3 linked regions of the Homo sapiens genome follow. The protein of the gene in region 2 purifies or fractionates together with the protein of the main gene of each other region. This does not show direct contact. Each region holds a gene or a part of one and is shown on either strand. Other genes may lie near its edges.

Region 1 (3,268 bases), on a different chromosome or scaffold from region 2:
AAGGCATTACTTTGATTCCAATGAAGACAGATCATTATTTTAATAAACTGTGATCTATTAGCAAGAAGCTAATTTTCTTTAATGATATAAAGGGGAAAGGAACAAAGTTGTTAAACCAAAGAGCAAAAGCTAGATAATCCCAGTTTGATGAAATAACAGTTTCATTGTAAATCAATTAAGTATAAATGAGGAAGACAACATATTTTTCTCTAGTTTTGGGATCATTTGGCAATCAATACTGAAAAAGATTTCATGCTGCTGATTGGGAGATGTTTAATTCCACAAATTCTTTTTTTTTTTTTTTTTTTTTTGAGGCGGAGTCTCACTCTGTCGCCCAGGCCGGAGTGCAGTGGCAGTCTTGGCTCACTGCCAGCTCCACCTCCCGTGTTCATGCCATTCTCCTGCCTCAGCCTCCCGAGTAGCTGGGACTACAGGCGCCCGCCACCACACCCAGCTAATTTTTTGTATTTTTAGTAGAGACAGGGTTTCACCGTGTTAGCCAGGATGGTCTTGATCTCCTGACCTCGTGATCCACCTGCCTCAGCCTCCCAAAGTGCTGGGATTACAGGTGTGAGCCACCGCGCCCAGCCAATTCCACAAATTCTTAAGAACTGCGGGTTGCCAAAATTCAGATTAAGGTAAATCAATATAAATGCTGAACAAAAGTAGCGCCCCATTTTTAATGATATAAAATATGTAATTATTGGGAGATATAAGTAAAATATGGAAAACTTACTGTGATGAGGTATTCAACTTCCTCACGTGAAAACAAAACACAGAGGGACAGACTCAAGACTAACTCAGTGAATGCTATGTGGGAAATTACATTGAGTACCTTCTAATTTTTCAGGGACATTTTGCGGTGACTGAGTTTGAGACTGAATTTGTGAAACAGATGAAGCGTCATCTGAGAGTAATTCCTGCTCAGCATCTGTTGGATAAGAGTTTAGTTAAAAGCCATGCAAAACAAAACAAAGCAGCATATGATTTTAGGGAGGTTAGTGCATACATCAAATGCCTGTATACAAAGAGATGATAAATTCTTCAGCAGTGAGCTGAGCATGCTAACAGTTATCCCATATATCCATAATTATACATTAAGAGGAGGTTAATGTGTTAACATTTCTGGCTGCTAATGGTTATTTTACGTACAGGTTACAAAAGATGCACAGCTGCTGGCAGCCCAGGCAAATGATATGTTGCATGTAGCTCTTGCTAGCATTAGAAAACCAAAACATACTGCGCAGACAGATGAAAAAAATTATAAAGCCTCACCAATGATGCTACATTAATGAGGCAGAATGCTTCACAGAATTTTTGAACAATATTTAATTAGTGATACCTGTCAGAGCAATGTTACTGAGCTAATTCATAAGGTCATAATAAATGTGGAAGAAACTACTATAAAGTTATATAAAAAAGGTGACGGTTCTAGAGTGCAACATTTGTTACCTGGCATCTTTAGGCTTTCAAAAAACAAGAGATTAAAGAGGGATATTTTACAAAATATGAAAAACAGAGAAAGCTCCCAACTTTATGTTAGAATAAACAAATTCAATAACACCATTTAGAAAATTTAGTATAATTACATTAATGAATCAGGACAACTCCCTTTTGTGACAAAGGCACAAAAAACTGTTCCTTGGATGATCAAGATGTCATTAGTTCTTCCTAAATGATATCTAACATGGACAAAAATTCATTAACTATTGGCTTATTTTGCTTTGCATGAAAATTTCAACTGTATGTTGTGGATGCTCTAAAGCAGAGGCTCCTTACCCTCTTTTTGGGTGACAGGCTTGTTCCTGACCCTGAACCCTTCCCTCCCTAAATGTGTACCTTAAACAATAAAGCATGTATTTTTCAGGTGGCTCATGGACTGCCTGAAGCTTATCCAAAGACTCAAGATAGAGAACTCCTGCTAGGAAGAATCTCTTATTCCAGAGAAAAAGGGAGCTAGTAGTCAATTGTTTAAGATGTTTTCATTAACAAGTCTTAAATATAATCCTAACAATCTACTTACTAAGGGTTCCAAAGCCAGAAAACTCAACCTACTAGAGTGTCCGTGTGCTTAAGGAAAGTCACATCAAAATTTTAGCAGTTAGTTTTAAATTTTGAAGTGACAATGTTGGCACCTTGAGATAACCAGAAATAGAGATTTTACAAAGCATCAAAACTACATACTTATGAATCTGTAATTATTTAAAATTAAGAGAGTTAAAAAGCCACATAATTATGAAATGTTTAAATCCATTAATTTATCTACATCTACTTTGGCTAGTAATTCTTTACTCATCTGGGAATCTCACTTTCTAGAAGATTTTACTATAAAATAGTAGCATTCAGATTGTTTTTTTTCTTTTTCTGTTTTTTTTTTTTTGAGACGGAGTCTCTCTCTGTCGCCCAGGCTGCAGTGCAGTGGTGCGATCTCAGCTCACTGCAACCTCTGCCTCCCAGGTTCAAGCGATTCTCCTGCCTCAGCCACCAGAGTAGCTAGGACTACAGGCGTGTACCACCATGCCCGGCTAATTTTTTAATTTTTAATAGAGACGGGGTTTCACCATGTTGGCCAGGCTGGTCTCAAACTCCTGACCTCAAGCAATCCACCTGCCTTGGTCTCCCAAAGTGCTGGGATTACAGGTGTGAGCCATTGTGCCCGGCCACACTGACTGCTTTCTATCATCCAACGTGAGGTACTTTATTGTTATCAGTGTGGCTTACCCTAGGTTGAATGTAAAGATTAACTAACCTTCTAGGCCTTGTTGTTTACGTTCGATTGTCCTCTTATACTCTTCAAGTTCTCCTTCTGTGAGATGACTAAATGGGTTAGGAGGAGCTGGTGGGCCATGATCATCATCTTCAAATTGCATAGTCTTACAAAGAAAAAATAAAAATCGATTCATTACCAAGAGTTTTACTTATATATCTATCCATCCATCCATCTATATACACATAAATGCAAATATGATGTTTGTGAAGCCTTATTTCACAACAATCCTAAGAAATGCAAGGTAACATGCTTTGTTTAAAATGCTCTTGTAAGATTGATGCCCTTAAACTACTAATCCAATGGACTAAAATTGCCAGTGATATTTCCTCAATAAGCCTGTATAAGTAAATCTTAATAATTTTTAAAAACCATTATGCCAAGTTCTAATAAGTTTCACATAAAAAAAACTTGAAAAAAACAAGAATTGCTCCATTTTAAAGACCACTGTAAAAAAGGCTTACAGAAATGAAACTGTACCAAAAGTAGTTCTTTAAATCT
Region 2 (3,727 bases):
GCGTGACCACCACGTGCCCTCTGCTTAGGCAACATGCCCAATCTGCTTTATTTTTTTTTATGTATTTTTTTTTTTGATATGGAGTTTCACTCTTGTTGCCCAGGCTGGAGTGCAATGGTGCAATCTCGGCTCACCACAACCTCTGCCTCCCGGGTTCAAGCGATTCTCCTGCCTCAGCTTCCCAAGTAGCTGGGATTACAGGCATGTGTCACCACACCTGGCTAATTTTGTATTTTTAGTAGAGACGGGGTTTCTCCATGTTGGTCAGGTTGATCTCGAACCCCTGACCTCAGGTGATCCACCCTCCTTGGCCTCCCAAAGTGCTGGGATTACAGGCAAGACCCACCACCCATGGCCGCAATCTGCTTTATTTTCTTCGAGACAGGGTCTCGCTCGGTCGCCCAGACTGGAGGGCAGTGGTGCAATCACAGCTCACTGCAGCCTTGACCTCCTGGGCTCAAGTGATCCTCCTGCCTCAGCCTCCAGAATAGCTGGGACTACAGGTGCAGGCCACCATGCCCAACTTTTTTCTTTTTTTTGTAGATACGGGTTCTCACTATGCTGCCCAGGCTAGTCTTGAACTCCTGGACTCAAGCAGTCCTCCCTCTTCTGCCTCCCAAAATGCTGGAATTACAGGTGAGAGCCACCACACCTGGTCCCAACCCACTTTCCTCACCCACAGTTCCAAACACAAGCCCCTCCCAGCAAAATGTAGGCACAAGCAAACAAACAAAAACTACAACCGACTTCTTCTTAGCCCATTGCCTAAATTGTCTGGGTTAGTCCCAGATTATAACCTATCAAACAGGGACCCACAGAGTCAAAGCAGGCTGTCCGATGGCATTGCTGCCAGGAGTCCTGAGGCAGGCCCCTCCACCTCTTGGGTGACCTGGAGCAGTGGGGGCAGGAGGGCTGGGGGTCTCACCTTCACCTGGAACACAAGCTCATTGCTGCCAACACTGAACTGAGACTCAAACAGGACTGTGAACTTCTCCTCTGTCACGGACTCTGCACCCCGCCGGTCAGCACGCTTGATCCTCTTCAGTGACTGCAGGGTGGGAGGTGACAGGGGAACAGGGAGATGGCGGCTGCTTACAAGGACTCAGCTCTGGGCAGACCTGCCCTCCGAGGGTGGGCCCCGTCCTCACCATGTTCCTGAAGTGGGCACTGAGGGTGCCCGTGGCTTGGTGGTACTCCATCACGCAGCAGTTGTTCAGGATCTCACCACTGCACTCGCTGCAAAGGAGAGGGGGGTCCCAGCTCCACATGGGCCCCAGGCCAGGAGCATGGTCCTGTCCACACCTCGGGCTGGGGTCTTCGCTCAGGTCAGCCCTGCCAGCAGCCCCTGCCCCGTATCCCCTAAGAGTGTTTCTTGGCGTCTTTCTGGGTTACTGACTTCTCCATCAACCTGGTGCCCAGCACCCAAGGCAAGGTCTCCAGTGGTGAGGTCTGGATCTATCATTAGAAATTCCTCGATACCAAGATTGATGTGAGGGCTTTGGGGACTTCCAATAGCTTCTAATGCACTTAAGATAAAAATCACAACCACAGTCTCTGAGGATCCCTATGGTCAACACCTACCCACCCCCCTGGCCTCACTGAATTCCTCTCCCCTCACTCAGGACATGCAAGCCCCGTTGGCCCTGGCTGTCTGCTGAACATGCCAGGCTTGGACATTGGCCCTTGCTCTTCCTGTCACCCCAAACACTCTTAGCCTTCTCCTCCTTCAGGTCTCAGCCCAGATAGCTCCCCAGAAAGGCCTTCCTGGACCACTTATCTGGAGAAGCTTACCAAGCTGACCTTTCCTCACCCCCGCCTTAAACACATCTCCAACGCTAGCAGATTGCTCTTTTTTCTTTTTTTTTTTGAGACAGAGCTTTGCTCTTTTTGCCCAGGCTGGAGTGCGATGGTGCAATCTCAGCTCACCACAACCTCCACCTCCCAGGTTCAAGTGATTCCACTGCCTTAGCCTCCCAAGTAGCTGGGACTACAGGCGCACACAACCATACCTGGCTAATTTTTGTATTTTTAGTAGAGATTGGATTTTGCCATGTTACTCAGGCTGGTTTCGAACTCCTGATCTCAAACGATCCTTCCACCTCAGCCTCTCAAAGTGCTGGGATTACAGGCGTGAGCCACTGTGCCCAGCCTAGATTGCTCTGTCTTAACTTCTTTTCCAGTGTCTATCACTGGTTGGCCCTGCCTGATCTTTTAAAGTGTATTATCATCAGTCTCCCCAGCTGCAATGCAAGCTCAAAGGCAGTGAGAAGGTCATTTGTCTTCATCTTCACCCCAGATCACATGGTAGGAAATCAGTAAACTTTTTTTTTTGAAACAGAGTCTTGCTTTTGTTGCCCAGGCTGGAGTGCAATGGCACAGTCTCGGCTCACTGCAACCTCCACCTCCTGGGTTTGAGGAATTCTCCTGCCTCAGCCTCCTGAGTAGCTGGGATTACAGGCTTCCACCACCATGCCCAGCTAATTTTTGTATTTTTAGTAGAGACGGGGTTTCACCATGTTGGCCAGGCTGGTCTCGAACTCCTGACCTCATGATCCGCCCGCTTGGGCCTCCCAAAGTGCTGGAATTACAGGCGTGAGCCACTGTGCCTGGCCTTTTTTTTTTTTTTAAACAGAGTCTTGCTCTGTCATAGGCTGGAGTGCAGTGGCACAATCTTGGCTCACTGCCACGTCCACCTCCGGGTTCAAGTGATTTTCTTGCCTCAGAGTAGTTGGTAGTTAGGACTAGAGGTCCAAGTAGCTGGAGCTACAGGTGTACGTTACCAAGCCTGGCTAATTTTTGTATTTTTAGTAGAGACAGGGTTTCACCATGGTGGCCAGGCTGGTCTCGAACTCCTGGCCTCAAGTGATCTGCCTGCCTCTACCTCCCAAAGTGCTGGGATTACAGGCGTGAGCCACCTCGCCCAGCCTCAGTAAACATTTTTAATTGGATGACAAGGGATGGGGCCATGTCTTCCACATCACTCATTCACTCATTTATTCATCCCCTGCATACGCTGTGGGTGGCCTGCCCTGACACTGGACACTACTTCTCCACTCTCTGCTACACATAATGTCTCTGTACTCTTCCCTCAGGATGTGGCACATGGGCTCTGCCTGAAAGTCCTCCCTCTCTGCTACTTCCCTCCCTATCACTAGCTACCTCCAATTCCACCAGGAGCCTAAGACTGTCATTTCTTTAATCCTGCAAGAAGACCCCCTTTCTCGGTGCCCTACACATCCCCCTGCCACATGGCTACACCATCAGGCATTTCCCAGCATCTGCTGCCTGCTCTGCTGCTCAAGGGGCTGGGCGAGAAGACAGCCCAGTTCTGTTGGGATCACAGTTTTGTCCTCAGTGCGTAGCACAGGTTCTAGAACACAGCTACAACACCATACTTTGTGTGATTTTTTTGGAGACAGGGTCTCACCCTGTTGCCCAGGGTAGAGTGCCATGGCACAATCATACCTCACTGTAGTATCAAATTCCTAGGCTCAAATGATCCTACCACCTCAGCTTCCCGAGTAGCTGGGACTACAAGTGCGTGCACCACCATGCCCAGCTAATTTTAAAACTTTTTGTAGCGATGAGGGTCTCCCTATATTGTCCAACTCAAACTTTTGGGCTCAAGTGATCCTCCGACCGTGGCCTCCCAAAGTGCTGGGATTACAGGGGTAAGCCACGGCATCTAGCCTAGCACCAAGCTTGTTGCAGGGACAGGGAAGGCATC
Region 3 (3,500 bases), 7.8 Mb from region 2:
GGGCCCAGATTCAAGACAGGTGACTGTCACAGACGGCCACACAGAAGCTGAGTGAGCAGGGAGATAAGGAAGTGAGTGAGGAGAGAAGCCTCCCTCAGGAGGTGGGAGGGGCTGGGGTGAAGCCATCTCACCAGCGGCGTTCCCCCGGTGCCAGGCTGGGGGGTGGGTGCTGTGGAGTACATGTAGCTGAAGAGTCGCTCAATCTTCCTCAAGGGAACACCCCCACCTCGGTCACTCATCTGGGAGAGATGGGATGTGTCAGGGATTCTTTACAGCTCATTTTCCCCACCCCGCCCAATACCCCTGACCTTCTCATGGTCTTCCCCACCCCCAGGATCTGCCCACCATGTAGGAGAAAAGGAAAGCCCGTCTCCTGGCAGGAGGGAAGCCCCCACTACTGCTCCCTGGTCCCCAAGGTCAAAGGGTCACATACCTTGATGGACAGATCTTCCTCACCCAAGGCCACCATGACCTTGATGGGTGGGAGAATGAGGCTGGACTCATGGCTTTCCACAGTCGCCCTCATGGCATTCTGCGGAGGGGCAGAGGTAAGAGATGCATGGGAGAAGCCAGCCCTACTCACGCTCCCCGCAAAGCACCGGCTCCCAGCCTCCTCACCTTGAAGAGCTCAAAGAGCATGTGGTAGAGGTGGGAGGGGACGTAGACCATGTGAATCGGCTGTTTGGAGTTGGCTGCTACAGGGCAAGTCAAGACCAAGGGTCAGGAAACCGTCAGGAGGTCACTGCTCAACCACCTTACCCAAAGGAGGCACCCCCTCCCACAAAGTTCTGAGTACATGGCTGCCCAGCGAGAGACTAAATCCCCAGCCTCCCTTGAGCTGGGGTAGCTGGTGACTCATGGAAGTGATGCATTCAATTCTTGGGCCCTGCTTTCCACACCCTTGTTCCCTTCCTCCAGGCTAGAACTGAATCAGGGGTGGGGAGCCAGCCCTGACCTGTCCAGCAAGGGGCTGGCGAGAGGGAAACCTCCCTCTTAAGTAAGCCACTGGTATTGGGGTTCTAGGAAAGCAGCCAAGCTGATACACCATCTAACATGCCCCTCCTCCCTACCCCTGTTGAGTTACCCCATTTTATTTCCTTCCCATCACTTGTCATGATCTGAGATGGTCTTGTTTATTTACTTGTTAATTGGCTGAAGGCTCCATTCCGCAATCTCCCTAGCACCAAAAATGTAAGGTCCACGAGAATGGGGACCATTTCTGTCTTGCTTACTCTTTCATTCATTCATTCACTCAATTTCTTATTTGTTTGAGATGAAGTCTCGCTCTGTCACCCAGGCTGGAGTGCAGTGGTAGCATCTCAGCTCACGGCAGTCTCAGCCTCCCGGGTTCAAGTGATTCTCCTGTCTCAGCCTTCCAAGTAGCTGGGATTATAAGCATGTGCCATCATGCCCGGCTAATTTTTGTATTTTTAGTAGAGACAGGGTTTCACCATGTTGCCGAGGCCGGTCTCAAACTCCTGACCTCAAGTGATTGGCCTGCCTTAGCTTCCCAAAGTGCTGAGATTACAGGTGTGAGCCACTGTGCCCAGCCCAAATATTTATCAAATGAATTAATAATATAATAACTCTGCTTCTCCCCTGTCTAGAAAACAGTCCATCTCCTGACTCCCCGTCTCACCTTGCCCTGCCACGTCCCCAGCCCCAAGACAGACACATACACAGCCCCGCTCACTCACCATTGATCTCCTGGATCTCCAGGTCAGGTGAGGCCATGTAATACTTGTCACACAGGAGCTTAGCCATGTCGTAGGCATCTGAGAGAAGATGGGGTCATTCAGGGCATGGGTGGCCCACCCAGCAGGCAGTCCTCCTGACATTGATACTGGGGACCACCAGCATTAAATCCATGGCACCCCTTACTGAGGAACGAGTCACCCTCTGGCCAGGTAAGCTTGGAGGGGTCCCCGGGGCTTCTCTGCGGGCCAGGCACCGTGGGAATGGCTCACCTTTGACCACCTCAGAGACGTTGCAGTTGGGGTCGATGCTGCCGATGTGTTTGGGATGGGCTGGGTTGGTGCTGCCATCAAAGATGAGGGCTGCAGGCAGGAAGGGAGGATGCTGTTGGCTGGGCTGCAGTCTGTCCCAGCGCTCCCTCTTCCCCCGGGCTTTCCTCCTCTTTCTACTTTCACCTCCAATGCCTCTGTAGGCTCCAGTCCTAAAGCTGCCCCACTCCCCCGCTTCTGTCCTCCCTTCCCTGACCCCTGACCCCTCCAGCCCTGGCTTAGGCCGTTTTTAAACCTTTGCAAACCTGAAACAGACGTCTTTTCAGAGGTCTCTCCCCACATCACATCTCCACATTGCATTTATTCTTTTCTTTGACTATAACATTCTAAGAGAACTCTTACCACCTTGCTTTGGAAATTATTTGAGCATGAGGAACTTGTTTAATTTATGACTGGCTACAACTTCTCAAAAATCATAGTGAATCCTCCTGGAATAAGAAACTCTAAACAACAAATTGTTTTTGAACATAATGAGAGTTTTTATAAATACTAAATTAAACATTCTTTTAAAGATGTGACATAATTTTACATTTTGCAAACACTGAAAACAAAACGTTTTGAAATGGAAAATCAATGAGAAAGAAAAATTTTATTTTTCCATGTTGGAGCCATTAACTCCATAGTTACTGGAGTAACTATTCAAAGACTCCCTTTGTGGGGTTCTGAAGAGTGGTCTAGGTCCCCTCAGCAGCCCGGCCCTGGGCCCCAGCACCGCCCCCCCCACCGCCCGCTCCCCGCCGCTGTGGCCGGCACCCACTGTGCTGGTTGATGAGCATGCGGATGGAGATGCGGCTGAGGTAGAAGCGGTCCAGGAAGTACTGGATGTTCTGGTTGGAGACGGGGTCATCGCCGTAGGTGTCCTTGTACTCAAGCACGCCTTGTGCCATGGTGGGCACCACGTCGTTGTGCCGGTTCCGGATGGTGACCAGGGCGTCAGTGAACCTGTGGGGCAGGGCAGATGTTCACATGGGACACCCCCAGACTCTTCTCCGCTTCTGACTCCCCTCTCCACGGTGTCTTCACCCGCTCTACCCTTCCCAATCCGATGGACTCCCAGTGCCCTCCCTGCTCCTCCCAAAGCCCACTCTGATCTTTTAGCTGCCTGCCGGCAGGCTTCCCACTCGAAAGCCCAGAGTTCTCATCCTCCCCATGGCAGGGCCTGGGTCTTGCCCACCGGGCTCAGGGAACAGTGAGAATGGAGTCCATGTCTCTCCCATCAAACTTGGGGCTCCCTGAAGCAGAGTCTGTCTCCCCACTCAGACTGGATGTTTCTGAAGGCAGGGGTCTTTTCTTCCATCCTGCTGTACTTCTGCCCCAGGGGCTGCAACCCCAGATGCCCCTGGCCAACACCTGCCTTCCTGCCCCACCCAGGGCCCCCACTCACTGGCTCAGGGTGCGATGGTCCTCGGGATCCTTGTCCAGGAACTCCATGATGTCCAGGAGGCTCTGGACATACCTGTGTGGGGGCGGGAGGGG

The links.
Region 1: the proteins of STAT5A (region 2) and ADD3 purify together in Homo sapiens (affinity purification with mass spectrometry; one large-scale study listed by BioGRID and IntAct). This does not show direct contact.
Region 3: the proteins of STAT5A (region 2) and PDK2 purify together in Homo sapiens (affinity purification with mass spectrometry; 2 studies listed by BioGRID and IntAct, with this or other methods). This does not show direct contact.

Annotation. Positions count from the first base shown.
Region 1 is NC_000010.11:110,129,968-110,133,235, reverse strand, and holds part of ADD3 (gamma-adducin), read right to left. Parts: intron 2,874-3,268; coding exon 2,750-2,873; intron 932-2,749; coding exon 836-931; intron 1-835. UniProt on the Homo sapiens protein: Membrane-cytoskeleton-associated protein that promotes the assembly of the spectrin-actin network. Plays a role in actin filament capping. Binds to calmodulin.
Region 2 is NC_000017.11:42,301,851-42,305,577, reverse strand, and holds part of STAT5A (signal transducer and activator of transcription 5A), read right to left. Parts: intron 1,237-3,727; coding exon 1,149-1,236; intron 1,049-1,148; coding exon 926-1,048; intron 1-925. UniProt on the Homo sapiens protein: Carries out a dual function: signal transduction and activation of transcription. Mediates cellular responses to the cytokine KITLG/SCF and other growth factors. Mediates cellular responses to ERBB4.
Region 3 is NC_000017.11:50,105,351-50,108,850, reverse strand, and holds part of PDK2 (pyruvate dehydrogenase kinase, isozyme 2 isoform 1 precursor), read right to left. Parts: intron 3,481-3,500; coding exon 3,409-3,480; intron 2,967-3,408; coding exon 2,782-2,966; coding exon of another isoform or gene 2,699-2,781; exon of another isoform or gene 2,480-2,698; intron 2,058-2,479; coding exon 1,968-2,057; intron 1,776-1,967; coding exon 1,698-1,775; intron 696-1,697; coding exon 619-695; intron 533-618; coding exon 434-532; intron 240-433; coding exon 132-239; intron 1-131. UniProt on the Homo sapiens protein: Kinase that plays a key role in the regulation of glucose and fatty acid metabolism and homeostasis via phosphorylation of the pyruvate dehydrogenase subunits PDHA1 and PDHA2.